7 linked regions of the Homo sapiens genome follow. The protein of the gene in region 7 purifies or fractionates together with the protein of the main gene of each other region. This does not show direct contact. Each region holds a gene or a part of one and is shown on either strand. Other genes may lie near its edges.

What was found.
Region 1: the proteins of SP6 (region 7) and POGLUT3 purify together in Homo sapiens (affinity purification with mass spectrometry; one large-scale study listed by BioGRID and IntAct). This does not show direct contact.
Region 2: the proteins of SP6 (region 7) and CCZ1 purify together in Homo sapiens (affinity purification with mass spectrometry, with the first as the bait; 3 studies listed by BioGRID). This does not show direct contact.
Region 3: the proteins of SP6 (region 7) and KLHL8 purify together in Homo sapiens (affinity purification with mass spectrometry; one large-scale study listed by BioGRID and IntAct). This does not show direct contact.
Region 4: the proteins of SP6 (region 7) and DNAAF3 purify together in Homo sapiens (affinity purification with mass spectrometry; 3 studies listed by BioGRID and IntAct, with this or other methods). This does not show direct contact.
Region 5: the proteins of SP6 (region 7) and KLHL24 purify together in Homo sapiens (affinity purification with mass spectrometry; one large-scale study listed by BioGRID and IntAct). This does not show direct contact.
Region 6: the proteins of SP6 (region 7) and MON1A purify together in Homo sapiens (affinity purification with mass spectrometry; 3 studies listed by BioGRID and IntAct, with this or other methods). This does not show direct contact.

Annotation. Positions count from the first base shown.
Region 1 is NC_000011.10:108,484,633-108,488,720, forward strand, and holds part of POGLUT3 (protein O-glucosyltransferase 3 isoform 1 precursor), read right to left. Parts: intron 1,809-4,088; coding exon 1,525-1,808; intron 1-1,524. UniProt on the Homo sapiens protein: Protein glucosyltransferase that catalyzes the transfer of glucose from UDP-glucose to a serine residue within the consensus sequence peptide C-X-N-T-X-G-S-F-X-C. Can also catalyze the transfer of xylose from UDP-xylose but less efficiently.
Region 2 is NC_000007.14:5,904,811-5,908,898, reverse strand, and holds part of CCZ1 (vacuolar fusion protein CCZ1 homolog), read right to left. Parts: intron 3,806-4,088; coding exon 3,630-3,805; intron 1-3,629. UniProt on the Homo sapiens protein: Acts in concert with MON1A, as a guanine exchange factor (GEF) for RAB7, promotes the exchange of GDP to GTP, converting it from an inactive GDP-bound form into an active GTP-bound form.
Region 3 is NC_000004.12:87,168,336-87,172,423, forward strand, and holds part of KLHL8 (kelch-like protein 8), read right to left. Parts: intron 2,281-4,088; coding exon 2,112-2,280; intron 1,904-2,111; coding exon 1,744-1,903; intron 1-1,743. UniProt on the Homo sapiens protein: Substrate-specific adapter of a BCR (BTB-CUL3-RBX1) E3 ubiquitin ligase complex required for The BCR(KLHL8) ubiquitin ligase complex mediates ubiquitination and degradation of RAPSN.
Region 4 is NC_000019.10:55,163,244-55,167,898, forward strand, and holds the start of DNAAF3 (dynein axonemal assembly factor 3), read right to left. Parts: upstream 3,171-4,655; coding exon 3,086-3,170; exon of another isoform or gene 2,821-3,085; coding exon of another isoform or gene 2,758-2,820; coding exon 2,615-2,757; exon of another isoform or gene 2,605-2,614; coding exon of another isoform or gene 2,539-2,604; intron 2,221-2,538; coding exon 2,127-2,220; intron 1,558-2,126; exon of another isoform or gene 1,301-1,557; intron 1,266-1,300; exon of another isoform or gene 844-1,265; intron 1-843. UniProt on the Homo sapiens protein: Required for the assembly of axonemal inner and outer dynein arms. Involved in preassembly of dyneins into complexes before their transport into cilia.
Region 5 is NC_000003.12:183,649,024-183,653,111, reverse strand, and holds part of KLHL24 (kelch-like protein 24), read right to left. Parts: intron 2,817-4,088; 5' UTR 2,756-2,816; coding exon 1,836-2,755; intron 1-1,835. UniProt on the Homo sapiens protein: Necessary to maintain the balance between intermediate filament stability and degradation, a process that is essential for skin integrity.
Region 6 is NC_000003.12:49,912,705-49,916,792, forward strand, and holds part of MON1A (vacuolar fusion protein MON1 homolog A), read right to left. Parts: intron 656-4,088; 5' UTR 643-655; coding exon 516-642; intron 1-515. UniProt on the Homo sapiens protein: Plays an important role in membrane trafficking through the secretory apparatus. Not involved in endocytic trafficking to lysosomes.
Region 7 is NC_000017.11:47,844,170-47,848,513, forward strand, and holds the end of SP6 (transcription factor Sp6), read right to left. Parts: intron 4,318-4,344; 5' UTR 4,261-4,317; coding exon 3,130-4,260; 3' UTR 739-3,129; downstream 1-738. UniProt on the Homo sapiens protein: Promotes cell proliferation. Plays a role in tooth germ growth. Plays a role in the control of enamel mineralization. Binds the AMBN promoter.

The sequences.
Region 1 (4,088 bases), on a different chromosome or scaffold from region 7:
GTAATCCCAGCTACTCAGAAGGCTGAGGCAGGAGAATCGCTTGAACCCAGGAGACAGAGGTTGCAGTGAGCCGAGATCGTGCCACTGCACTCCAGCCAGGGTGGCAGAGTGAGACTCCATCTCAAAGCAAACAAACAAACAAACAAACAAAAAAACTCCCTTTATGGTCTCTCTAAGTAAGAAAGATAAATATTGCCCACCTCCATCCTTCACCCTGTATGATCAGAAACAAGAACAAAAGGTGGTTTAAGTTGCTCTGCTTAAGAGGAATTTAGAGTTCTGCAAATGTGGAAAGAGAGGCTGAATAGTGAGATAAGGGGGCGCTATTGGGGGATGTGGGGAGCCTGAAAAACAGAGGGCCTAACCACATTAGTGAGAGGCTAAGAACTTAAGGTCAAGGACAGCCCTGAGAAATTCCCAGAGGCAAGTATGACTGAGAGTCTGATTAGTGCAGAGATGTCTATTTTTAAATATCAGGGTTTTTGTTTGTTTGTTTTTTAGTATGCACTGGTGAAAAAAAAAACAACCTGTTTCTGGTAGCCCAAGCTTTGACAAAATGTCCCATGCACGCTATCTTCTAGGTATGCTTAGGGTAAAACAAGGAAAATGTGTTCTAAGTTCAAGTCATTTTGAGGTGAAGAGAAGAAAACAGCTGCAGAAGGTGAAATCTAAGCAGGAGTAGTATTCAGCGGAACAGAGAACTTAAAGCGGCCTCTTGACATGGTTGTGCATGCCTATAGTCCCAGCTAGGATCAAGGCTGAGGCAGGAGGATGGCTTGAGCCCAAGAATTTGAGACCAGCCTGCTCAACACAGCAAGACCCCATCCCTATTTAAAAATAAATAAATAAATGAGACTGTTCTGTTTGGATATTGTAAATATAGACTATTTGAAAAAAAGAATAAGAAGTAACCTTGTTATAAATCTCTGGAAGCTCAAAGAAAGCTTGGGAGTGTCCTGTATGGCATACCTACCTGGGATGGGGGCTCAGCCACTTTATTCTATTTTATTTATTTATTTATTTATTTATTTATTTATTTATTTGAGATGGAGTCTCACTCTGTCACCCAGGTTGGAGTGCAGTGGCGCAATCTTGGCCCACTGCAGCCTCCACCTCCTGGGTTCAAGGGATTCTCCTACCTCAGCCTCCTGAGTAGCTGTGATTACAGGCGCCCACCACCACGCCCAGCTAATTTTTGTATTTTTAGTAGAGATGGGGTTTTGCCATGTTGGCCAGGCTGGCCTTGAACTGCTGACCTCAGATGATCCACCCGCCTCAGCCTCCCAAAGTGCTGTGATTGCAGGTATGAGCCACCATGCCTGGCCTCAAGCCACTTAATTTTAAATCTTACAGGAAAGTAAGATCCACAAAGATGGAGAACATGATGAACACTCAGGTTGCAAATATCTTAGATGCCCATTTCTCAGCCTGAAATCTGTTTCATCCTTTGTCATTATAATTCTAAACATTTAAATGTTATACCTAAATAATTAAACTGTATTATCAATTCATTCATTCTCCTACCTTTCTTGTCAATGATAACAAAATCTCATCAGAGAACATCTTGAAGTCTGTGTATTTCCCTAAAGATCTCCGGTAAACATGGTTATTGAGAATCGTGTAATGAACAATGGCACCTCTCTCATCCCCAAACCTTTTGGGGACTTCTTTTAGCATTTGCTGGAGATTGATGCTGGGAAAGGAAGCAAAATCTTTTGCAATCTGTGGTTCCTTGGTTGGACAAGAAAGAGTCTTCTGCCAGGCCTGAGGATCTTCCGGACACTCACAGTACTCATGGTACACTGGTCCTAGGGAAGGAAAACATGAAAAAGGCCGCACTCCATTAGCAAGCACCACAACACAGGGAGTCACTTCTGTCTCTGCTTCTTGGTGAATTCTAAGATTATCCAGAGATAATCTGCCCTAGACAAATCAGTGGTGTAAGTGATTATGTTAGAGTCCTACACTTTTACTTTCCTTTTCACACCACCTTGGATAAACAGTTTAGTATATGCCCTCTCCCAATCTAACCTACTCTCGGTCACTTAGCTCATAAATTCATCTCTAATAAGGTATAAATGGCTGGCAAACATGAAACAACTTACCTTTTAGCAAGGAGAAAAAGAACGTATTAATTTTTAGACATTATGTAAACCAAAAATAAAATTCTAAGCCTCCTAGACCGTCCAAATGGATCCCTCCTTTTGGCCAAGGGCATTCCAAAGTTAATCTGAAAAACTAGTTCGGCCACGAAGGGAAAGGGGAACCAGGCATGCCTCATTATACCCTCCTCCCTTTTGGAATTCAGGCCTAGCTGACCAGCATTAACATCAACACAAACTTTGTTGAACTGACTCTTTAAGTCTGATAAGAAACATTTGCAATCTCCTCTGTCGCCTGCTACCTGGAAGCCTCATCTGCATGATAAAATCTTGGTTTCCACAAACCCTTATCATAAGCCCAGACATTCCTTTCTATTGATTCTAAGTCTTTACACAATAACTTAATTCTTTCAACCAACTGCCAATCAGAAAACCTCTGAATCTACCTATGACCTGGAAGCTACCCCCAACCCCTCCCAACCACCCCCACCCCTTCCAGTTGTCCCTCCTTTCCAAACCAAACCAATGTACATCTTAAATGTATTGATTAATGTCTTATGTCTTACTAAAATGTATAAAACCAAGTTGTAGCCTGATCACCTTGAGCACAGGTTCTCAGGATGTCCTGAGGGTTGTGTCATGGGCCATTGGTCATTGAGTCTGAGAGATGGGGGAACAATAAGGTAAGCCCTACAATTCCTACAGCTTACTGCTTAAGGGAGCTTCGAGGCTGTAGTGCAGGGAGGGAAACTGTAGGCAAAAACAGGTAGTCTCACTGAATTGAATATTTGGCTCAGAATAAAGCTCTTCAAATATTTTAGAGTTGGACTCTCTTCTTTTTTCTTTCTTTCTTTTATTTTTGTTTTTTGGTGGCAGGGGGACAGAGTCTCACACTGGCTGAGACTCTGGCAGAGTCGCCCAGGCTGGAGTGTAGTGGCGTGATCTCGGCTCACTGCAACCTCCTCCTCCCATGCTCAAGTGATTCTCCTGCCTCAGCCTCCCGAGTAACTGGGATTACAGGTGTGCACCACCATGTTTGGCTAATTTTTGTATTTTTAGTAGAGACGGGGTTTCACCATGTTGGCCAGGCTGGTCTCAAACTTCTGACCTCAGGTGATCCACCTGCCTCGGCCTCCCAAAGTGCTGGGATTACAGGCGTGAGCCACCATGCCTGGCCATAAGTTTGACTCTTTTCATTGACAACAAGTAACAGGGACTGATGTACCACCCCACCTGAAACAACCAGAAAACACTCCCACAAAACATATGAAACAATAGTTTTTTGTTGTTTTTGTTGTTGTTTTTTTGAGATGGAGTCTCACTGTGTTGCCTAGGCTGGAGTGCAGTGGTGTGATCTCAGCTCACTGCAACCTCCGCCTCCTGGGTTCAAGTGATTCTCCTGCCTCAGCCTCCTGAATAGCTAGGATTACAGGCACTCACCACCACGCCCAACTAATTTTTTGTATTTTTAGTAGAGACGGAGTTTTGCCATATTGGCCAGGTTGGTCTCGAACTCCTGACCTCAAGTGATCCACCTGCTTCGGTCTCCCAAAGTGCTGGGATTACAGGCGTGAGTCACCGCACCTGGCCTTAAACAATAGTTTTTAAGGCACTAGGTATTAGGCAATGAAGGACAGTGAGTCTGAGAGATGGGGAACAAATAAGGTAAGCCCTACAATTCCTACAGCCTACTGCTTAAGGGAGCTTTGAGGTTGTAGTACAGGGAGGGGGACTGTAGGCAAAGCCAGGCAGCCTCACTGAGTTGAGGAGACAGAGCTGGCAGTCCAGGGAGACCAAGGCAGCTCTAGACTTTGTAGGACAGAGTATCTAAAAAGGAAGCACTGCACAGAGAGAACGTTAGAGATCTATAGAAGGTCCTCTTCACATATTGAGCAGAGCATATGATCAGTGCATTTTGGATGGGTTCTTCCCCTGTATTGATTCTAAAAATAATACAGTTTAATTATTTAGGTATAACATTTAAAT
Region 2 (4,088 bases), on a different chromosome or scaffold from region 7:
TTAATTCTCCGGATCTTCGGTGAAGAAAGAGGAGGAGGAGAAAAACAAGCTTTCAGGCAAACCACCTGATCTGAAATGAGGCAGGAAGGAGCAGCACATGGAAAAAGCACAGAGAAACTAGCAGGTATCAGACTCTGGAACCGGTTTTTTAAAAGGAGACAGACAATGAGGCTGGATCTGGGCGTTTTCTATTCAAGATCACTGAAATACCGTGAAGGTGGTCGGGCGCGGAAGCTCACACCTGTAATCCCAGCACTTGGGGAAGCCAAGGTGAGCAGATCACCTAAGGTCAGGGGTTCAACACCAGCCTGGCCAACATGGCGAAACACCGTCTCTACTAAAAAATATAAAAATTTGCTAGGCCTGATAGCACACACCTCTAATCCCAGCTACTTGGGAGACTGAGGCATGAGAATCGCTTGAACCTGGGAGGCGCAGGTTGAAGTGAGCTGAGATCACATCACTGCACTCTAGCCTGGGCAACCAAGCCAATGAGACTCAGTCTCAAAAAAAAAAAATCAAAGCAATATACTAAGTAAATACATAAGGGTAATATATACTCTGCTTGTGACAAGTTTTTTTTTCCACTTTTTGGTAGAGACAGAGCCTCATTATATTGTCCAGGCTGGTCTCCAAGTAACTCCTGGCTCAAGCGATCCTTCTGCCTCCTCCTCCCCAGTAGCTGGGACTATAGGTATGTGCACCACGCCTGGCTTAAAAGTCTTTTTGGTATTTAATATAACAGCTTTGGAATAAGCAATTCCGTCAAAACGTGCTGTTTTTCTTTTTCTTAGACAGGGTCTTGCTCTGTCACCCAGGCTGGAGTACAGTGGTGCTATCATAGCTCACTGCAACCTCAAACTTCCAGGCTCAAGTGATTCTCCAGCCTCAACCTCTGTAGTCTCTGTAGTTGGGACTCTAAGTGCACACCACAATGCCCAGCTATTTTTTTTTTTTTCCATTTTTTGTAGATACAGTCTCACTATGCTGCCCAGGCTGGTCTTGAACTCCTGGTCTCAAGTGATCCTCCTGCCTCAGCCTCCCAAAGTGCTGGGATGACAGGTGTAAGCATTGGCGCCTGTTTTGCTTGAAGGTTATTTTTGTTGCTACTTCCTGGGACTGACCTTTCCCCACGAGCACACTGGAGGTGACAACAGAACAGTTCTGTGCAGCCACCAGAGCTGTGCCCTGCTCAACCCCTCAGATGCTATTCCAAGATGACGATGCCAACAGGATCCCCAGAGCTGGGCGCCAGATTGTCCTGTGACTCCAGGCTTCAAAGGGCCAACCCTGCTGGTCACTCTGGCTCCAGGGTCTCCCAGAATGAGCTCCTGGAAGACCCTCTGCTCTAAGCCTTCCCTCTTCCTCACTCTCAGGAGTTTGCACCCATGGCGGGGCTTGTGTTCTGTCCCAGAGATCAGAATCTCAGCTACCCTTCTCTTTTTGGTGGAAGCAAGGCCATGGGCCACTACTGCTGGATTCTGGCTTGTCACATGACATCTCCCTATCGCTGTGGCTGCGTGTGACTTGCAAGCACGTCCTGTCATTTCCATCTGTGGAGGAGCCATCCCTCTGCAGACCTGATGCTACAGAAGCACAACTAGCCTCCCATCTCCTACATTTCACAGCAGAATTTCACTTTAGTAACATTGTGTACATATCACAGAAAGCAACTATAGCTGAGTCAGTACAGTGTAAGGTTGCCTGATAAACTATTTGTCAAATTAGAAAGTAGGTGGAGGCGGGGCACAGTGGCTCACACCTGTAATCCCAGCACTGGGAGGCCAAGGTGGGCGGATCCTTTGAGGTCAGGAGTTCGAGACCAGCCTGGCCAACATGGTAAAACCCCATCTCTACAAAAAAATTAGCTGGGTGTTGTGGTATGCACCTGTAATCCCAGCTACTCGGGAGGCTGAGGCAGGAGAATTGCTTGAACCCAGGAGGCAGGGGTTGCAGCAAGCCAAGATCATGCCACTGCACTCCAGCCTGGGCAACAGAAAGCGACTCCATCTCAAAAACAAAAAAAAAAGTAGATGGGTTTCACCCGAAATTTCTGTTGTCTTCCTAGGAGATAAAGTTCATGTGGAAACCCACCAAGTTGTTTATTAACTGGATTCAAATTTCTTTACAGTAACTTGTTTCTCTTCTTAAAATGGAGCTACAAGATTTTGGCAGGGAAGGTAAATTTTAGGGGAACTAGTTTTGCCTTTTCTATTAGCTGAATTTACCTTATAGTAGTACCATATGGCCACACCCCTAATTAAGAAACTGGGCTAGGCCAGGTGCAGTGGCTCACACCTGTAATCGAGGCACCTTGGGAGGCCTATGCAGGGGAATCACCTGAGGTCAGGGGTTTAGGACCAGCCTGGCCAACATGGTAAAACCTTGTCTGTACTGAAAATACAAAAATTAGCCGGGCATGGTGGCATATGCCTGTAATCCCAGCTACTTGGGAGGCTGAGGCAGGAGAATCGCTTGAACCCAGGAAGGGGAAGTTGCAGTGAGCCAAGATCGCGCCACTGTACTCCAGCCTGGCAACAGAGTGAGACTCCGTCTCAAAAAAAAAAAAAAAAAAGAAAGAAAGAAAGTGGGCTCTAGTCAACGGGAACATAAAACTTGAGGGTCCCAGAACAGCTGCAAGCCTTGATGACTTCTGTCCACCTACTCTAGGCCAAATGTGCACAACCTCGGTTGCCACCCAGCTCTCAGGGGTCACATATGCTGGGCAGTCTTGTGCCCACGTTGTTCCTACTGCAGGACACAAACCTAGTTTCACGATAGCAGGTAATTTCCTGGTTTATATAACACTTTGGATTTCTTGGATTAAAAAAAAAGAAATCTAGTTTCTTTAAAAGAAAGTAGGTGCAGTGGCTCGTGCCTGTAATCCCAGCACTTTGGGAGGCTGAGGCGGGTGGATCGCTTGAGGCCAGGAGTTTGAGACCAGCCTGGGCAACACAGTAAACCCCGTCTCTATAAGAAAGAAAAAAAAAAAAAAAGGTATAAAAATTCTGCTTTTATCATTTCAGAAAAAAAAAAAAACTCCAAAATAAAAACAGGATTCCTAAACCTTACTTGATAGGAACATTTTCTCTTTTTTTTTTTTTTTTTTTTTTTTTTGGAGACAGAGTCTCTCTCTGTTGCCAGGCTGGGGTACAGTGGTGCCATCTCGGCTCACTGCAACCTCCGCCTCCCGGGTTCAAGTGATTCTCCTGCCTCAGCCTCCTGAGTAGCTGGGATTACAGGCATGCACCACCACGCCCAGCTACTTTTTGTATTTTTAGTAGAGACAGGGTTTCACTATGTTGACCAGGCTGGTCTCCAACTCCTGACCTCGTGATTCACCCGCCTCAGCCTCCCAAAGTGCTAAGATTACAGGTGTGAGCCACCGTGCCCAGCCTTTCATCTTTCATGCAACCAGTTTTAAACTCCTCTGCTTGGAAATTTGAACCCAAATCACCCTAGTTCTGCTTTAAATAATCACTGCTTTATTTTGACAATATCTATGAAGATGCTTCCTACCCATCCTCCCCGCTGCAAGTTCCTGTTTGACAACCTGTCATCAATCCAGTCACTGCTGTTTTTATTATCTTAATTTCTTCTTTTAATACCATGCCTCGGGGTGTACCTACCAGATGAGCTGATCGTTATAGAGAAAAGCAGTGTATTTGACTATATTCAGGCTTTCCTCCATTCTATTAATAAAGGACTGGATTTTCAAATAAGTCATTTTATCCAACGGGAAGAAGCTGATTCCACCAAAAATGTCAAGTAGGTCACATGACTGCAAATGTAGCGTTTGCAAATACTGTGGGAAAAAAAATAAGGCATAAAATTTACTAATAGTACACTGAATATAATGCTCCTTGATAACTGAAAATAATCTTATGTCAGACTCACATTTATGGTACAATTACATACTAGCAAACAGCGCAACAATGAGGCCGTGGTGAAGACATGGGTAACTGAGTGCCAACTCAGTCTCAGTACCAATTCCAAGATACAAAGTTCAAACATATCTACTTAATGTTTATTCAGTATTGTGTTTTACTGCTTTAAATTTATTTTTTTGTGACAGAGTCTTGCTCTGT
Region 3 (4,088 bases), on a different chromosome or scaffold from region 7:
TTTTCTGATTGTAGTAAAGGTGAAGACTCCTAAGGAACAGCGCTTGGTGTTGGCCTTAACAGACAGACAAGGGCTGAGGGATGTGAACTGAGTCTTGTTATTCTTTCGGCGTTTTGTGGAATAAGCAGTGAAATTTAGACAAGAAAGAATAGAAAAGAGAATTCTTCTTTAATGGGGGGAGGTGATTTTCTCCTAGGGTTATCCTGAGTTGGGGTTTTTAAGATAGCACAAACTGCTGCATGCTGTTTTTTATGGACTGAAATCAATTTATAATATTTTTTTCTGCAACACTGGAGATTTTTATTTTTTAAAAGATATATATATGTATATATATGTGTGTATATATGTGTGTATATATATACGTATATATATGTGTATATATATACGTATATATATGTGTGTATATATACGTGTATATATGTGTGTGTATATATATGTGTATATATATACGTATATATACACACATATATATACACACACATATATATATATCCTTCTTTTTTAAGACACAATCTTTATTGGGTCTGTACCTTCATCCTTGATCTTGTTAGCAATGCCTTTTTTTGCTGTTAGGTGGGTTAAAGCGTTAAACCTGCATGGGGTTTGGTAATAAAAGATTGTTAAAGTAAAAAAAAAAAAAAAAGCAATATAAACATTGACATGACCTTTATTTATATGAAATACCTAGGCCAGGTGTGGTGGCTCATGCCTGTAATCCCAGCACTTTGGGAGGCCAAGGCAGGAAGATCACTTGAGGTCAGGAGTTCAAGATCAGCCTGGCAAACACGATGAAACCCTGTCTTTACTAAAAATACAAAAATTAGCTGGGCACGGTAGCACACACCTGTAATCCCAGTTACTCAGAAGGCTGAGGCAGGAGAATTGCTTGAACATGTGTGGCAGAGGTTGCAGTGAGCTGAGATCATACCACTGCACTCCAGCCTGGGTGACAGAGCAAAACTCTATCTCAAAAATAAATAAATAAATACCTACTGGCTTACTTGAAGTATTCAACATAATTTCCCTTGAAATGAGGTTGAGAAAAACAAATCTGAGACCTTTTAAAATTTATTGTAGCAAAGCACATTCAATCTGTGTCCTTCCATTTAAAAACATATACCTTATTTAAATGTAATCCCCTTCTTTAAATAAATTTGTTACTCTTAGAAAAATAAGGCTGTACATGTTTTAAACATGAAAGATGAAGATTTAAACAAAAATTATGAATGTGACCTTAACAATTCAGCTAGGCATGATGGCCCATGCCTGTAATCCCAGCACTCTGGGAGGGCAAGGCAGGAGGATCACCTAAGGCCAGTTGTTCATGACCAGCCTGGGCAACACAGCAAGAACCCATCTCTACAAAAAACAGAAAAAAACTGGCTGGGTGTGATAGCCTGGGCCTCTAGTCCTAGCTACTTGAGAGGCTTGAGGCAGGAGGATCATGTGAGCCCAGGAGTTCAAGGCTGCAGTGAGCTACGATTGTGCCACCGCACTTCAGCCTGGGCAACAGAAAGACACTGTCTCCCTCTGAAAAAAAAAAAAACAAAGAATTCAAAAGCATCAGACTGAACATGTACAATTCTCTGTTAATTATAAACAAAATTTTGTAAGAAAGAATTCAAAAGCACATTTCAGGACCGATTCTACTTAAGGCTAAATGCAATGTAATTTTTGTTACTCTGTTATATGACACTTGTCATTGTATATACTGATATATTAGAGAAATACCCATTTACTCACCAACTACGTATAAGCAACCATGAAGCTTGCTAACTCCATTGCCTGCTCTTCGCTGACCCATTTCTTTAACTTCTATCCACTTATCCAGATGTGGATCATATCTCTCCACGCTAGATAAAGAAGCCATTCCATCATTGCCACCTACTGCATAAACATGGTTCTAAATGAAGAGAGTCAAACAAAACACATTAGATTTCGAATTTATTTATATATTGTTTTAATGGTAAATTAGAATGTACAAGGCAGTATTTCAGGAAATAATATGATATATAATATCTTCATACTGGTGATGATATATTGGACCTTTCCTTATTTTGGTTATGAATGTAATGCAATGTAATTTAATGACAAGTTGCCATATAACTTACTACTAGAGCAACAGAGCCAACTCCTCCACGGGGAGTATTCATTGGTGCCACTGTACTCCACTGATCAGATTCTATGTCATATCTCTCCACATCATTGAAGCAAGTATTGTCATCTAACCCTCCAATTGCATAAATTGGGCCTCCTAAGGAAGCCAAGGCAATTCCTCGCCTGCAAAGACAATAAAACATACTTTAGCAAATGAGTTTGTTTCCAGGAAAAAAAGTCATATAAAAAATTGTGCTAATGCAAATCATTTATCATGTTAACCTTCAAACAGTATAGTTTGTTTCCATTATTTTTAGATCTATCAAAGCTTTTGACTAGATGGCTACAGAATTGCCAAACTGTGCAACTCTATGTGAATACTGCCCCCTGAAGTTGTACAGTGCATAGCCTACACAGGCTACTTTAAACTCAAAACAATAAAATATAACCCAACAAAATAGTATAAAAGAGTTCAAAATATTCAATTAGTGCACACACAGCGGCATAACTGAGAGGTTAATGAGTTGACAGAGAAGTTCTGCAGCGGAGGTCAGAAGCCAATCTCACTTACAAATCCATGCAATTACAGAGCTCATTTTGTTGCAGGGTTTCATTATACCACACAAAAGAGTATTAAATTTTATATTACAAGTTTTATGTCACGTTGCTTTATTTCTGAAGCGTATTTATTTCTCTCTAAAAGTAAGAGACTTAGCCCATGTTAAAAGCTGATTTAACAGTGATCAAAAAAAAAACTCAATTTCTTAAAAAACACACTGCACCAATCAAAAGTTGAACTATTATCAAACTATTATTTTGTCACTAGCTTGGATAATTTATAAACCTCTACTATCTTGTGTCTCATCTGAGACATAGATGGATATTAATGAGTTAATACATGTAAAGCACTAAGAACAATGTCTGGCCCATATTTAGTTCTATGAAGTATTAGCTTTTATTATTATTGGAGAAAGCAGCTGCTTCACTGAGATTCTAACTCTAAATTTACCAGAGAGTATCCAACAAAAGAATTCTTAAGGATAATGTTATCATTCACTTTCAAGCTCCTCAACCTCTTTTCTCTTGGGTATAAAGCTATGACTTACCAAATACTGTGCTGATAAAAATGTTCAGGTGTGTGAGAACAAGTACATGTGTTCTCTAGAATGTAACGATGTTAGGTCAGGGAAATAAAGTAAGTATGCCTCATAATTGTCCCTCCCCTTAAAGGACAAAAGCAGACAACATCATTGGCTTATTTCCTACTCCTCAAAACTCTCTTGGTTTTCATAACATCATACGTTTTAGTCCACTCCTACGTCTCTGGCTAGTGCTTTTCAGCTTCATCAGTGCCTTCTTTACTCCATCATTAAATTATAAAGTTCCCTAAGGGTCACTCTACACTTTCTCTCCCTAAGCATATCCCATTCTTTCCACAGATTTGTGATAATTCAAATATATATTTTCAGACATATACCCAATTTCTACCTCAAATATGTCTTGCTGGCTCTTCAACCTTAACTTTAATCTGAAATGAAACTCACTGCCCACCTCGCTGTGGTAGGCAGAATTTTAAGATACTCCTCATCCCCCATGACCTTCATCCCCTGGTGTTACTCTCATGACTATGCTACATTATATGGCAAAAGGGAGGTGACCTTGGCGGGCCTAATCTAATCAAACAAACCTTCAAAAGCAGAGAGGTTTCTCCAGCTGATTGTCAGAAATTCAAAAAACCAAGTGAATGCAGTGTGCCATTGCTTGTTTGAAGGTGGGGGGGAACATGTGGGAAGGATCTGGCAGTGACTTGTAGCCAACAGCCAATAAAAATGAGAAACAGTCCTATAGCCACAAGGAACTGAATTCTATCAATAACCTAAATGGCCCTGGAAGTGGCTTCTTCCCCAGTGCCTCCAGACAAAAGCCTAGCCCAATCTCTTGATTCTGGCCTTGTGGGACCCTAAGTAGAAAGCCTAGCAAAACCTGCATGA
Region 4 (4,655 bases), on a different chromosome or scaffold from region 7:
GTGATCCACCCGCCTCAGCCTCCCAAAGTGCTGGGATTACAGGCGTGAGCCATCGCGCCCGGCGGCTAATTTTTTTTTTTTTTTTTTTGTATTTTTAGTAGAGACGGGGTTTCACCGTGTTAGCCAGGATGGTCTCGATCTCCTGACCTCGTGATCTGCCTGCCTCGGTCTCCCAAAGTGCTGGGATTACAGGCGTGAGCCACCGCGCCCGGCCAATATTTTATTTCTTGTAGAGACGGGGTCTCACTATGTTGACCAGGCCAGTCTCAAACTCGTGGTCTCAAGCAGTCCTCCCACCTCAGGCTCCCAAAGTGTTAGGATTACAGGCGTGAGCCACCGCCCCTGGCAATACTATACAATTTTATAAGGGACTTGAGCATCCTTGGATCTTGGTATCTGCAGGGGTCCTGGAACCAGTCCCCAGTGTTACTGAGGGATGACTGTATATACCTTTGCATATAATATATATACACATAGACATACAAATAGTTTCATGTTAGTTGTTTAAGAACTTAATAGAAGAGAACTATGTGCCTTTAGTAAAATAGATCAGTTTAGTTCTAACTGTTTAAGAACTTTGAACAATCTGTACTGTGCAATGTACTCTGAATTCCCTGGGTCATTAATGACTGATATGGTTTGGATCTGTGTCCCTGCTTAAATCTCATGTTGAATTGTAATCCCCAATATTGGAGGCGGGGCCTGGTGGGAGGTGATTGGGTCACAGGGGCAGATTTCTCCCTTGCTGTTCTCGTGATAGTGAGTTCCCACAAAATCTGGTTATTTGCAAGTGTGCGCCTCTTCCCCACTGCCTCTCTTGCCCCTTTTCCTGCCGTGGAACAGATGCCTGCATCCCCTTCGCCTCCTGTCATGATTGTAAGTTTCCTGAGGCCTTCCCAGCCATACTCCCTGTACAGCCTGTGGAACTGTGAGTCAATTAAACCTCTTTTCTTGGGGCCGGGTGTGATCGCACCCGCCTGTAAACCTAGCACTTTGGCAGGCCAAGGCGGGCGGATCACCTGAGGTCAGCATCTCGAGACCATCCTGGCCAACATGGTGAAACCCCGGCTCTACTAAAAATACAAAACCTTAGCCGGGCATGGTGGTGCATGCCTGTAATCCCAGCTACTTGGGAGACTGAGGCAGGAGAATTGCTTGAATCCAGGAGGCAGAGGTTATGGAGAGCCAAGATCGTGCCATTGCACTCCAATCTGGGCAACGGGACAAGACTCTGCCTCAAATAAATAAATAAATAAACAAACAAACCTGTTTTCTTTTTCTTTCTTTCTTTTTTTTTTAGATGGAGGTTTTGCTTTTGTCGCCCAGGCTGGAGTGCAGTGGTGTGATCTCGGCTCACTGCAACCTCTGCCTCCCGGGTTCAAGTGATTCTCCTGCTTCAGCCTCCCGAGTAGCTGGGACTACAGGCGCCTGCCACCACACCCGGCTAATTGTTGTATGTTTAGTAGAGACGGGGTTTCACCATGTTGAGCAGGATGGTCTCGATCTCCTGACCTCGTGATCTGCCCACCTCAGCCTCCCAAAGTGCTGGGATTACAGGTGTGAACCACTGCACCCAGCCTCTCCTGGAATTTTCTAAGTGGCTCTAAGATGTATTATATTTAGCCCCATTTTACAGGTAGGAGGAGCTGAGGCTCTAAGATGGCAAATTACATCAGAGGGGACCATCATCAATAAATATATTGGATTTTTTTTTTCATCAGAGGTACCACACTGGAAAATACCAAACATTTTTGGTTTTTAGATGGAGTTTCGCTCTCTTTTTTTTTTTTTTTTTTTTTTTTTTGAGACGGAGTCTCGCTCTGTCACCCTGGCTGGAGTGCAGTGGCGCGATCTCAGCTCACTGCAAGCTCCGCCTGCCGGGTTCACGCCATTCTCCTGCCTCGGCCTCCCAAAGTGCTGGGATTAACAGGCGTGAGCCACCGCGCCCGGCCGGAGTTTCGCTCTTGTTGCCTAGGCTGGAGTGCAATGGCGCGATCTCGGCTCACTGTAACCTCCGCCTCCCAGGAAAATAACCAAACTTTTTAATTGTACCATTGAAATGCCAGAATCCCTCTAGGGAGGGGGAGGAGACCAGCGGTCAGAATGCCTGGGTCCTAGCAACAGACCTTGCAGCCCCATCTTCTCCGGTTCCTCCAGGGCTAGGCTGAAGATCAGCATGTGTCGGGCCACAGCTTCCAGATTATTCTCCAGCACAAAGAACTAGAAGGATGGACAGGGCAGAATAATTCTGAGACCTGTTTGCCTGGGTCCTAGGAGACCCAGGAGAGCAGGCCCTCAGCTCTCTCCTTCCACACACCCGAGTTCTGTACACCAGCCTCTTCCTTCAAACACAGAAGTCTGTGTCCCCAGAGCTCTCTTCCCTTCCATTACTCAGAAGACCTCATCCTCGAGCTCTTCCCCACTATAGAACCCAGGAGTTCCAAACCCCAGCCCCTTCCTTCCCCCAAGACGCATCGGTTCGCTCCCAGCTTCTGCCTCCCTCAGATCTAGGAGTCTCCAGCCCCTTCATTCCTGGACCTGAGGTTTTAGAATTTCAATCCCTTCCTCCCTCAAGGACTCGGGAATCTGGGCTCTCATCTTCATCCCAGCTCACGTTGAACCTCCTGCGAGGCCAGAACTTCGCTCGGGACAGGGTCCGCAGCAGGTGCCGTCCATCCACAGAGCCCAGAAGCAGCACATCTAGCTCGGGGTTGCTGTGCACTGTATCGGCCTGGGAGTCTGGGTCCACAGGAGGACCTGGCAAGATGACAGCTGGCTGGGGCACCATGGTGGTTGGCAGAGCGTCCACCGTAGCATCCCCTATAAAAAATGGACTACAAATCCCAGTAGGCGTTCCGCCCGTGGCCTAGGTTCTAAGGGGAGGTGTTTCCTCTGAGTATTCTGGGATTCGCAGTCCGCAGACAGGACCTCGGGGCTGCCCCTGGGAGCGCGCCCTCTGCCGCTGGAGCGTTGGAGAACGTTAGCGCCCCCCTTGCCACCGACGCTGGGACTACGAGCTCTAAAAGGCCGTCTGCTCAGGCTGGGAAGGCAGACGGTGTATCAGACCTTGCGTGCTGGGACTCACTTTCAGCCTGCAGGTCCAGCGCCGGGGACAGGCCCCACCAGGACACGGAGCCGAAGCCGCTGCCGGAGCCGGCAGGTGTGGTCATCACCCTGCGGAAAAGACATTCTGGGAATCGCACACATTGCCCGCCCCGCTCCCCTCTCACCGCCCCTCACTTCTCGCCCCTTTGCCTCCACATGATACCTTGCCCACACCTTTATCCTCCAAATATCCCGGGACGCCCCTTCCTCTCTGCTCAGTGCAGCACTGTGGACCCGCGGCACTCCACAACCGCTGCCCAGAGTCCCCGCCCTTTTCGAGGAATCAAGCAATGGAAGCATGTGGGATGGGACCACAGCGAGCAACTGACCAATGAGAGTGAGCGAGGCCCGCCCTCTACAAACTTTTGGCCAATGGGAGCACTGAGGGCCAGCCTTCCCCCACACCTAGGAGAAGAGGGCGTGTGGACGCGGTTGTCATGACGACGGCGCCGGCGGGGGAAGGGGCGGTGCTAGAACAGGTTGGGGCGGAGTCAGGGTCGGTCCAAATTTCTGGAATGGGGGAGGCCTGGGCTGATTAAAATTGAGAGTGAAGGGAGCTTAATCTTATTTCTTGTTTTTTGTTTTTTTGTTTTCTTCATATGCCTTTGCTCATACGTAACGGAATTTTCATCAATTCAAATAAAGTGAAGTGTCTAGACTTTAGATGGCAGGCTTCTGAGCCCGCTCCCCGCCCCAGCACAACGTGGGCTCTACCACACAGAACAGCCCACAGGTGGGACACTGATGTGCAGGTCATTAAAAATTCAGGGATTTGTGAGCTGGTTATTGTTACACGAAGCCATAATTTAAACTTACAGCTAGATCCTTTTGTAGTTTCTAAGCGGGATGATTGGGTGTTCACGCGCATGCGTGAGATGTGCCTCCCTCAAACCTTGTTACGACATCGGCACATTACTCTTCTGACATGAACAAAAAAATTACAGGTAAATTCTGTAATCGTACAGTTAAATCAACTGCATTAAAATAAGGGTAAGTCGGCCGGGCGCTGTGGCCACGCCTGTGATCCCAACACTTTGGGAGGTCAAGGTGGGCAGATAACTTGAGGTCAGAAGTTGGAGACCAGTCTGGCCAACATGGTGAAACCGCGCCTCGACCTTAAAAAATACAAAAATTAACCGGGCGTGGTGGCACGCACCTGTAATCCCAGCTACTCCGGAGGCTGAGGCAGGAGAGTCTGTTGAACCTGGGAGGCAGAGGTTGCAGTGAACTGAGATCGCGCCTCTGAACTCCAGCCTGGGCGACAGAGCAAGACTCTGTCTCAAAAAAAAAAAAAAGAAAAACCAAAGTCTGAATGAGGCACATCTCTAGATCACCCCAGCACCCAGCACTGGGCTCAGCGCCCAAGGGGACTTGGCTCTCTGCCTCCTCTCCTTGCCCAGACACATGAGCTTAGACCAGTCACCCTTTCTGAGCCTCAGTCTGCTGCTCTGTGAAATGGGAATGTAGCGTGCAGCGGGCAGAGGTGCAGCGGATCTGCCTCCTGAGGGCAGATCTGGGCACTGGGAAGACAATACCTACTGGGGAAACGA
Region 5 (4,088 bases), on a different chromosome or scaffold from region 7:
GATTTGTTCCCTTAAAAATTGGATATAAAATACATTTTTGGAAATCAAATAATTAAGTAAGTTAGGAGAAGTATCTCTTCAAAGGAGTGATGGGACCCTTAGGCTGCAATCTGATTGCATTCAAATTATGTCTTTATAAATATTAGTAATCAATGTCTTATTTTGATTTTACAACATATAACCCTTGGTTCCTACTCTAATCCTATGAGATATGCAGGCTGAGTATTATTAGCCACATCTGACCTCAGACCATTCAGTCTGCTACAGGGGTATTTGTCTTGGAAAAAGGAGTGATTTTCCCTTTAGAGGGATACTGTGTGTTCATGAAAGTTCTCGAAGAACTAATAGTCACACAGCTCTGAAGCTGTTTAGTTTTCTTAATTAATACATTATTCAAACTAGTATAAATTTTAAAAACAAGCTATCTCACAGTATGCTGACTTTTAACATTCCGAAACAATGATAGTCAAAATTTAAGTAAAAATGTGGTTTATGAGCTATGCTATAGTAAATTCACAGAAAAAATGGAGATGGCTTAATAATAAACCAATAATAAACTAATAAAAATACTAGTTTCACAACAATGTAAATATACTTAACATTACTGAAATGTATAATTAAAAATGATTAAGACAGTAAAGTTTATGTTATGTGTTTTTTACCACAATTAAAAAAAAACCAACACCAACATTAGCTTTGTTAGAAAAATATTAAAAGGATTAAAAGGATAATTTACTGTAATATTTCTCATAACAAGCATTTCTTGCTTATTCACAATAAATATTCCTTCCACTATTAAGGCATGGAGATTATTTTTCTATAGTTTATGAATTAAAATCGATAAGTATTTTATAGAAATAATATACTGGAAGAAGATACAAATATGCTACAATATTTAACTGCATTCTACCCCCTAAGCACACATTTTCCAAATTCTCTATAATGATGATGTAATTTTCACATTCAGAAAAAAGATTTTTTAAAATTGAGATTGACATTAAATATAATAACTGTGACAATTAAGTAATATTTGAGGCCTGGATTTTACATCTCAGAATTCACTCAATGTATACCAGCTTATTTAATTCACCTCTATATTTCATGCTTCTGTGTTAGGACAAAGGCCAGTCTGTGGATGTGCAAACATTTTTTTTTCTTTTTTTTTTGAGACAGAGTCTCACTCTGTTGCCCAGGCTGGAGAGCAGTAAGAGCATGGCTCACAGCATCCTCAAACTCCTGGGCTCAAGCAGTCCTCCCACCTCAACCTTCTGAGTAACTGGGACTACAGGTCCGTGCCACCATGCCTGGCTAATTATTTTTAGTAGCGATGAGGTCTCGCTATGTTGCCCAGGCTGGTCTCGAACTCCTGAGCTCAAGCGCTCCTCCACCTTGGCCTCCCAAAGTACTGGGATTATAGGTGTGAGCCCCTGTGCCCAGGAGCAAATTGTTTTTTTATAAGTAGAGGCAGTCCAAGAGAGCCTACTAAAATCTTAGCTACCCTGTATCCAAAGACTCTTTGGAAAGAAAAGTGGAATGGTTTGGGGCCCTACAAAGGTTAAGAGAAATTAGTAGAAATATGTTGAGATATGCACAGTTGCAAAGACCCTTTGCTACACTGTTTGATAGCACAAAACAACAATAACAAAAAATGCTACTGTTGAATCTAGAATTCACTAGGAAAGACATTCTAGTGACATATAATCCAAAATAAATCTAAAATTATATACAGCCACAGGTAGACAGTGCATATAAATGACAACACTGAGATTGCATTCAGGAGGTTTAAAGATATATTAAAAACTTTTGTTAACTATATTTGAAAACAGTCTTCTCACCTGCGTGGCCTAGTCCTTGGGGACATCATTTCATTCCCAAGTATGTGGTACCGTCTTGCTTCATGCAACAACTGATAACACTCAGGAGAATTCTGGATCAATTGGTCCACTTCAACTGTTTGAACAAAGTAGTTGGGATGCAACAGAGGGAGTCTCACATGTGTCAGGAGCTCGTGTAACAGTGGTCTTCTCAGATCAACGGCACGATAGACCCAACGCATGACGGCTTCAAAAACCATCTCCTCTTTACCAATAACAAGTTCATCACTACAAATATAATCAATAAGTTCATCTTTGTCAAGCTCAAGAAATTCTTCGTGCTGGGATACATCCTCAAAAGTCTGTAACGCAAAATTTTTGCATTTTGTGAAGAGTGTTTTGAGTGAATGGGTATCAGCAAAGCGCTGGATTCCTAAGCAATTACAAGGATCAAGTTGCTCCTCCAAGAACTTGGCACATGCATCACGGAGAACACTAATCTGAAAGAGGCTTGATGTCTCAAAGAGATACTGTACATTCTCTGTAGTGATCTTCACCTTTCCAGTATAAACATACTGCAAAAAACATTCCATAGCTTCAGCTAAAATACCATTGATCTCAACCAACATTTCTCGGCTTTCCCTGTGGTCATTACAAAACATAGCTCTGAAGTAGCTGCTACAGGCTGAGAGCACAGCTCTATGGCAAGGAAATTCTTTTCCTTCCACACAAATGATAACATCTGTGAATAAGCGGCTATCACGAAATTCATTAAATATCTGGAGTATGTTTTCGGCATGGGATGATCCTGAAGAGAAGTCAAAAAACTCATGACCTGTCAGAGATTTGGGGTCCATTTCAAAAACTTTTCGCTTAGTTGCTGGGGAATCACGCACCCCAAGATCCTCTCTGTTTAGTCTGCGTCCCAATATTAGTACCATTGTTACATCAGTTGACTATATAATTGTTGAGAAATGACTATTAGGGATCTTCTTTATGTGGCTAAAAGTAAAAAAAGGAAAACATTTCAATATGCAAAAAATTCAGTATTCAAATCACATAATTTCATTTTAATATAAACACTACAACAAAATCACATAATATATTTCATATAGGGTACACAGCACTATCTCATGTTAATAAAAACTAATCAACAAAAATTTGCATTTGAACAATTAGAACATTGGGGTAATTTGCAATAGTACTCCTTAAGCTCCCCTTTTCTAGCTGAAAGGATACTATGTACTTCGTGAGTTACTAATAACCTTCCGTTTCCTCCCCATTTACAGAGCTGAGTTTCATACTATTGACTGTAGAGTTAAGTCAGAATGGTGTAAGACACAATTTGACTACAGTTAGAATTCTAACAGTTATCTTTCTTTTTAAGAATCTTTTTTATTTTGAGACAGGGTCTCACTCTGTCACCAAGTTTGGAGTAAAGTGACATGATCATAGCTCACTGTAACCTCAAACTCCTAGGCTCAAGCGATCTTCCTGCCTCAGCCTCCTGAGTAGCTGTGACTATGTGTGCGTACCACCATGCCTGGCTATTTTTTTTTTTACTTTTTGTAGAGATGGGATCTTGAACTCCTGGCCTCAAGCGATCCTCTCACCTCAGCCTCTCAAAGTACTGGGATTACAGGCATGAGCCACCATGCCTGGTGAAATAATTATTATCTTAATATAGAATTCCTAGAGAGGAATTTAGCTATATCTATCAATAGCCTTTAAAAATATGTACATTGTTTGACCAGCAAGTCCTTTTTTTTTTTTTAGCACTCTCTCCTAAGGAAATAATCAGAATTATGTCGACAGATTTATCTATGCAGATGTCCAATGCTGTATTGATAGAAAATACTCAAAATAACCTAAATGCCCTATAAGAGGGGATTGGTCAAACCACAGTACATCTTCTGGCTAGAACAAAGTCTATGCAACCATTAAAAATTATATATGACTATTTAACGACATGGGGAAGTAGTAACCACACAGTAAGTGAAAAAGTAGATCACAAAACATATGCCAACAGAAAAAATAATGTATCTGTGAATCTAGGGATAGGATGTACATATGCTAAAATGTTTTATTTATCTTCTCTATTTTCTACCAAAATTTCTATTATAAAATTTAATATTCATTTAAAAAAATTTCATGCATGTTATCTAGGTCTTGTTCCCTTTCACTAATAAGAAACATCCCAAAACCCCCTCAGAAATGACTTTCAGTAAGTAACTGATGGATTGAGGCACTTGGCTATAGCCATCAATTCTCTCT
Region 6 (4,088 bases), on a different chromosome or scaffold from region 7:
ACCAGGTCAGTCTTCCTTTATTGATTTTTTGACAAAATAGTTTAACAGATATATTTTGAGTCTCTCTTGCGAATTCAGCCCTGTACCAGGCACTGGGGATATAACTGCTCTGCGCTCAAAGTGTTCACAATCTTGTGGAAGAGAGAGATGGGCAATATATGCATAAAGAGATAAAATTATGAAATAATTAGTGTGCTATACAGAGCATGGTCAGAGCAGGCCTAACTCGTGAGGAGGGGAGAAGGAGCCGGGGAGGTGCGCTGTAGACACAGGGAACAGAAGAGCCCACAATGGCAGCCAGAAAGCTCAGGGCGAGCAGCATAACATGAAGTGGAGAGGAAAGCCAGATGCAGAATGAGCCTGGCCTCCTGCCTTATCCCCAGAACCTGACAAATATCCAATGAGTGACTGACAAATGCATGAATAAGTGGAAAGGAAAAAGTGGTTGGGAATCCTAATTCCCCCTGGAGACTGCTCTGGTTGGCAGCTGGCTGAGGCTGTACACTTGCCCATACCTGGCTCCATTCCCTGGGCCATTCCTGGTGTGGGGCTCTCAGCTCTCTCCATACTCTGTCCATCAGAAGGAGTCAATGTGCCATCAAGGCATTCGCTGCTTCTCTTCCTCTGCATGTCAGTAGCCATCCTTTGAGCTCTCCTGTGGGGCAAACAAATGCAACATCGATGGCTTTTGGCAGGGTCACAGGCATAATCAACAGTGGTAGTAAGTACAGGAAAGTGTCCTTTATCAGGACTCCACTAACTCAAATCTCTAGAAAATGGATTCTGAGAATTCCTTTCAAAAAAATATATACTGTTCCTTTTCTGATTATAAAAGGAAGACATATTCATTGTAAAAAAAAGACTTGGAAAGCACAGAAAAGTAGAAAGAAATATCAAGATTTTCCTACCATTCAGGATCTTTCACTGTTCATACGTTAGTGTATTTCCTTCTAGTATTTTTTTTTTTTTTTTTTTTGAGACAGTGTCTCGCTCTGCCGCCCAGGCTGGAGTGCAGTGGCATAATTTCGGCTCACTGCAGCCTCCCCCTCCGGGGTTCAAGCAATACTCGTGCCTCAGCCTCCCAAGTAGCTGGGACTACAGGTGGGCACCATCATGCCTGGCTAATTTTTGTATTTTTTGGTATAGACGGGGTTTCACCATGTTGGCCAGGCTGGTCTTGAACTCCTGACCTCAAGTGATCTGCCCCTCTCGGCAGATTGTTGTTGTTGTTGTTGTTGAGACAGGGTCTCACTCTGTTGCCAAGGCTGGAGTGCAATGGCACCAACACAGCTCACTGCAGCCTTGACTTGGGCTCAAGCAGTCCTCCCATCTCAGCCTTCCCAGTAGCACATGCCACAGCCAGCTAATTTTCTTTTCTTCTTCTTCTTTTTTTTTTTTTTTTTGAGACGGAGTTTCGCTGTTGTTACCCTGGCTGGAGTGCAATGGCGTAATCTCGGCTCACCGCAACCTCCACCTCCCAGGTTCAAGAGATTCTCCTGCCTCAGCCTCCCGGGGTAGCTGGGATTACAGGCATGCACCTGGCTAATTTTGTATTTTTAGTAGAGACGGGGTTTCTCTGTGTTGGTCAGGCTGCTCTCGAACTCCCGACCTCAAGTGATCCGCCTGCCTCGGCCTCCCAAAATGCTGGGATTACAGGTGTGAGCCACCGTGCCCCACCTTTCTTTTCTGAAACAGGTCTGGCTCTCTTGCCCAGGCTGGAGAGCAGTGGCGTGATCTTGGCTCACTGCAACCTCTGCCTCCTGGGCTTAAGCCATCCTCCCACCTCAGCCTCCTGAATAGCTGGGACTACAAGCACATGCCACTGCGCCTGCCTAATTTTTTTTTTTTTTTTTTTTTTTTTGAGATGGAGTCTTGCTCTCTCACCCAGTCTGGAGTGCAGTGGTGCGATCTCAGCTCACTGCAACCTCCACCTCCTGGGTTCAAGCAATTCTCCTGCCTCAGCCTTGCAAGTAGCTGGGATTACAGGCACCTGCCAGCACATCCAGCTAATTTTTATATTTTTAGTAGAGACAAGGTTTCACCATCTTGGCTAGGTTGGTCTTGAACTCCTGACCTTGTGATCCGCCTGCCTTGGCCTCCCAAAGTGCTGGGATTACTGGTGTGAGCCACTGCGCCCGCCTAATTTTTGTATTTTTTATAGAGACAAGGTCTTTTCATGTTGCCCTGGCTGGTCTCAAACTACTAGGCTCAAGCAATCCTCCCACTTCAGCCTCCCAAAATGTTGGAATTACAGGCATGAGCCACCATGCCCAGCCTGGTCTTTTAGAAAATGTACATAAAATGTAAATAATTAAACAAACTGATAGCAGCAGCTAACAGTTATTCAGTGTCAGCGTATCATGCTAAGAGGTTTCTGTGGATTAAGTTACCTAATCTTGATCACGCCTCTATGAGGCATGTGTTCCTGTCAGGCTAGCTTTATAGATGAAAGAACTGATACTGAGAGAGCTTAAGGAGCTTGCCCAATGTTACTACAGGAAAGAAGTGCTGGATTTGGATCTGGGAGTTGAAACAACTCTGTATCCTGTATCCAGTGGCTCACTCCTGTAATCTTAGCAAAGATTGGAGGCCAAAGAGGGAGGATCACTTGAGCTCAGTAGTTCACTAGCTGGGGCAACAAAGTGAGACCCTGTCTCTACAAAAAATTTTAAAAACTAGCCAGGCATGGTGGCATGTGCCTGTAATCCCAGCTACTAGAGAGACTAACATGAGAGGATCACATAAACCCAGCAAGTCAAGGCTGCAGTAAGCTGTGACTACAACACTGCACTCCAGTTTAGGCAACAGAGTGAGACCCTGTCTCAAAAAACTAAAACTAAAAATAAATAAAAATAAAAATTAACTAAGTTGACCAATAGTTCTTTTTGGATATCTAGGTGTTTGCAGATAAAAAAGTGAGACACAGGCAACAGGCTTGTCTTCAGGCTGCAGCCCTGCTTTTCTCTAAATATCCTTTTGTACCTTTTGAATTTGGCACAAGGAGTTGTCTTAACAATTAAAAACAACTATAGACATGTCAACTCTCAGTGCCCATGTAATGGCCAGGATAGATTCAGCCGGATCTCCTTGTCCTTCCACAGCCCCAGGCCCAGGTGGAGGTGGCCACAAGTGAATGTCAGTGGTAACAGAGCTAGCTGGGTGGCTCACCGAGGCTGGTAGCAAGGCTTATTTGGCCTCTAGGGTCCTTCAATGGCAGGCTGAAGGATCCTCACTTGTCAGGCAACATACAGTTCACCCAAGAGGGGATCCATTCCAGGTACCAATCCTTTAAGAAAGAGGGATCTAGCTGGATGGACTAGAAGGGCAGAGACTCATGGAGCAAACACTGCAGGCAGGCCAGGGGCCCAGGAGGCACTGGTGTTAGTGTGAGCAAAGTAGACCTGAGCCTGCATCCCAGAACACAGAGTCTGGTGGGAATAACTGAGCTCTTGTCCCCTCCTAGCTGTGTAACCTTGGGCAAATGACTCTTCCCTGGAAGCATGGCATAAAGTAGGTGTTCAAAAAAGTTCATGAAAAGGGTGGTCCCAAACAGATAGCATCACCATCAGTAGCATTTGTGTGGCATCAGCCAGTCTGTGTCCAAGAACATTCTCTCTGGACCTGGCATAGCTCCAGTCAGGCAGCTCCTATGTGTGTGCCCAAAGAACTAATTTTCAACCTCTTCTTTTTGTCACCTTTAAGCTATGTAATTCTTTCTTTAATTGAATCTTTTGCAGAAGCTCCACGTGCAAACAGATAGGGAAGCAGAGCCTGTATCCTGACAGCTGGCCTGGTGGCCACTCCTGCACTGAGCCTGAAGGACCGCAGAGCACATGGAGGGTTGGGCACCACTGCCAACAGCATCACCCCACACAGAATAAAACCAAAGAAAGAAGGTTGGGGAGATAATCTGGGGATTTTCTAGGCCCCCAGTCCCATCCATCAGGACAATCAAGAGTAATGGTTCCCAGCAAGAGTCAGAGCCCAGAAGGAAAAGGCGCAGGCTGCCTTGTCAGACAGTGGGCCAGAGGAACTAAGAGGCTGCATGCCCTCAACAGGAACCTGCGGTAGCATCCACAGAGGTCCCC
Region 7 (4,344 bases):
CTTTGGGGCTCTGGAATCATGAGGCTTTCTACTCATTTGATGTGAATTAGGCACCAACTTTGTATCAAGCACTGGGAGGCCTGGGAAGATGTGTACAGATAGATATTTCTGCATATCTCTGGGGGCGGGTGCACGTGGGTCCAGTGCGGGTATGTTTGTGTGCCTTGTGGTTGTGTAACCATGGTGGGTCTCTAGCTGTGAGCTACAGTAGGAGCCTTTCCCTCATACTTTCCAGCTGGGCAGGAGCCCATCAGATAGCTCGGCTGCCTTTCATCGCCTTGTCCCTGATAAGGATCATCCTGGGTGAAGTAATCACTGCCAATCACCCCCAGCTCAGTCACAGGCAGGGGATGGACTGACATGCACCCTCTATGGGGATGGAGTGAGGGAGCCAGTGCCTGGGAAAGAGGGAACCAGTGTTCTTAGCAGGGGAAGGGAAAGAAGGGGCTTGTATGTGGAAGAGGAAAGAGATATCTAGAAACTTCTCATAACCACAGGTATGAGACCAGGGAGGGACAGCCCGGGTACCAACCCAGAGGAAGAACCTCCCTCCTTCTGTACCAGCCACCTCTGGGGCAGGATCAGACCCCAGCTCCAACCCAACTCAATAGACATGAGGCTTTCCAAGGGGCTGCAGGATCACTGGGAAGCATCCACCCCACTCTGTGGCCCAGACCTGGTCCTCACTGCTGAGGGACACTGAGTCAAAAAGGAAACAGAGCTGGAACACAAAGGAAGCATGATGTAGTTGATGACTTTATTGCATAAAAAACACAGGCTGTTTCTCCCTCCTCCTACCCCCTCAAAGTGAGTTCACAGCAGTTAAAGAAAAAATAAATTCCTACATTTTTCCTCTAGGGGGACTGCCTAGAAAGACAGGCAGCCAAGCAGCCTAGATCTATAAAAGAGGGGAGCAGAAGAAAACCTATCCAAAGCCTCTACCCGCATACCTCAGAGCTTGGGGCTTCCATTGGGGGGAGCATCTGTGTCCACCAGCAACACCCATTTGGGAGTTCCCCTTAGGATGGCCACTGGAAAAGGCTGTCTTGGTGGCACAGGGAAGGGGTGGCTGGTTTCGATGGGTGGAGGAGAAAGGCATCTTACACCCACGGTGCCCTTCCTCTTTCCCCCTCTCCACCTGGCCAGGCAACCTGCAGGCACTGCCAAATCTCCTCCTGCCCCCAACCCTCTCAGCAAGGAAGGGGATCTCTGGTTGGGTTAGCAGGAGGTAGGGAAAAGAGAAAGAAAGAAAGAACATTACTTCTTAAACTACCCCAGGCCAATGAGTTCCTCGGGAAGGTCATCCTGTCCCTTTTAAGGAGGGCCCCTTTGTATACAAACACATATTCCCACCCAGATCCCAGCCCCCACTTCCCATATAGCTCCCAGACCTTGGCTGGGCTCCAGCATCTACAAAGGAGGAAGAGATGCTGGGCCCAGATCCCAGGATCTTGGACATGGTGAATAAGATGGGGTCTCCCTGGCTAGAGACCCCAGGCTCAGTAGAGAAACACACATACATGCACACAGGTACACACAACATGCACACACATAACCTAATATTAAATAAAATACCCTTTGCTTATAACTTAAAAATCAATACACAGCTAATCTCTGCAGAGGGCTCCGGGTGAAGAAAGGGAGCGAGGGGAAGGGGGAGGGGTGTCAGAGGGACTGTAAGGCCCCTCTCTTGAGTGTGGGAAAGCCCTCCGGCTGCAAGGGCTGTGGCCTGTCAGACCCTTCCTCATATCAGCTTCTTTCCCCTCTGCCTGGCTCAGCTTCTGCTGGGCTTCTCCCCTCCCTCCTTTCCTCTCTCCCCCACCCCATGATCAGAATCAAAATGTGTTTCTAGCATCTAAAGGAGAAGGGAATGGGGACAGCTTCCTGGATGTCACCTCAGAAGGCAGAACCCCTTCCAGTGGGAGAACAACTCTTTCCTCTCCCTTCCCCTGTGAGATGAGGGGGAGGAAGGAATCCCCTAATGAACATGCTATGGCAGGGGCAAGGGAAAGACAAGGGCCAAGCTAGAGAGACAGTGGGGTTTATTTTCTTGGTGACAGCTAAAGAGATGGTCAGGTAGGCTGCAGGCCTCCACTCTGAGTGGGAACCAGTGGAGGTCCCTCTGATGAGACACCCCCAATCTGCCCTCAACCAGCCCAAGAAACCCTCTTCCTTCCATCCCTGAGGGGAAGGCAACTGGTGGGAACTACATGGATTCTACCGCTGGCTGCCTTGAAAACACACCTAGGGTAATAGATGGGGAATGTGAGACTACTGAACTTTATTTATCATAGACCAAGAATTAAGGGCTGAATCAGAGGTGGAGAGGGAAGGGGTTAGTTCCTTCCATACCCCACCAAATCCCTATCTCTCATTTTAGAAGAGGACTTCCCTACTCGCCCCCTCCATCTATCTCGGTCCTTTATCGCCAGCCCTGGCTGGGAGGCTGTCAGGAATGGCAGCCCTCTTTCCCTCTTCCTTCATGGCTCCAACAGACTGGGTCTGAAAGGGTTAATAAGGAAGCTCATCAAAGGAGTTATTTTTACAGCAACAACCCTCCAAACCAGAAAGAGACACCCCTGCCAAGGGGGACCCCCAGGCTCCCCCATCCCATCTCGGCTCTCCCTCCGGAAACCCTAGGGGCAGAAGCACTTTAAGTGGGATGAAAGGGACCCCGCCGCAGGGCGGCTCCGGAGGCGCTTTTATGTCCTGGTTCCCAGGCGCTAAGGACGTGTCCAGACAGCCACCACCAGCGCCCCGGGCCGGCCCCACTTCTCTCTGCTCCGGGGACTGGGACTTGCTGTCTCCTCTAGCCTGTCCCCGCCAGCCAGCCGCGGTACGGGTGTCCCACCCCAACCCCCCAGCCCAGGGGCGAGGGAAACTGTGAGGCAGGGGAGAACAGAGGGGCATTGCGCAGCTCCTACCGACCCAGTCAAATTCATCCTGCCTAGTAGCCCCAGAGACTAAGAACCCCTAGCGCCCCATCTCCCTGTCCCTGCACCACTTTTCCTCCTCCCTGAATAAATACGCACCTTCCCCTCTTCCTCAAGCCACCCCCAAGGACGTCAGACCTGGGGGCTCGCATCCAGTGCCCCCCGGGATACCCGCAGGGAGGCGGCACTGAGGAGCTCAGTTGGAGGGAGCCACGCTGCCCTCGGCCTCGCGTTTGCCTTTGCCCCCGGGGGGCTCCACTGCGCCGCCGGCCTTGCCCTCTCCCGAGGCCGCCCCAGCCGCCTCCTCCTTGGCGCCCTCGTGGGTTTTCATGTGCTTGGCCAGGTGGTCGCTGCGCATGAAGACGCGGCTGCAGACTGCACAGGGGAACTTCTTGGTGCCGGTGTGGGTCTGGAGGTGGCGCTGCAGCTCGTCCGAGCGCGTGAAGCGCTTGCCGCAGAAGAGCCAGTTGCACACGAAGGGACGGTCGCCGCTGTGCCAGCGCAGGTGCGCCTTCAGGTGCGACGTCTTGGCGTAGGCTTTCCCGCAGCCCGGGATGTGGCAGTTGTGCAAATGCTTCTTCTTGCCCCCATCGGGCCCACATGGAGCCCCCAGTCGCTCCGCCTCCAGACAGTTGGGGCAGCGACAGACGGTCTGGCCTGAGCTGCGGGGCACCGACCGCCGGGAGCCTTTGGGACGCGCCGCCCCGTCCAGGCTGGAATCCAGCCCTTGAGACTCCGGGGCGGCTACTTCCAAGGCCTTAGCCCCGTCGGGCGGCCCTAGGAGATGCTGCCCTCCGGCAGCTGGAAGGAGGTGGTGCGCATGCGGGTGGGGTGGCGGGGCACAAAGCTGGTGGTCTCCGACGTAGCCCCCCAAGCCCGCCTGAAGCGCCCCCGGGTGGCCAGGTGAGGTCAGCGCGCCCTGAGTGTGGGGGAGGTCCATCCAGCTGGTGCCCGGATGAAGGTCCCACCACGAGCCATCCTCCGCGCCTGGGTGAGTCGGCCTGAACCACGATTCATAATGGTGTGACATGTCCGGCTGCAGGAGCTTGGAAAAGGGGCCCGGGGCCAAGGGACTGTCGCTTTCCAGGTCCTCGCAGGTTACCCGCGAGGAGGCCCCTGGCAGCTCATAGCCCTGCGAGAAGTCCACCTCCGGGCCCAGCGGGAGGCTCTGCAGCTCTCCAGGCTGCAGCGGGGAGGGGTAGTCCCCGGCCTCAGGGCTCGTGTGGCCCTGGTAAGTTTGGAGAGGCTGCAGGTCGAGGCGCGGCGGGGAGGCGTGCGGCGCTTCCGTGTGCTGGCTGCCCAGAGAGCCGCAGACAGCGGTTAGCATTGCCGGGATCCGGGGTGGGGTGAGGGCAGGGACGGTCAGGGGCACCTCAGACGGGACCTAAAGGAGGCGAAGAAGCAGAAAAGT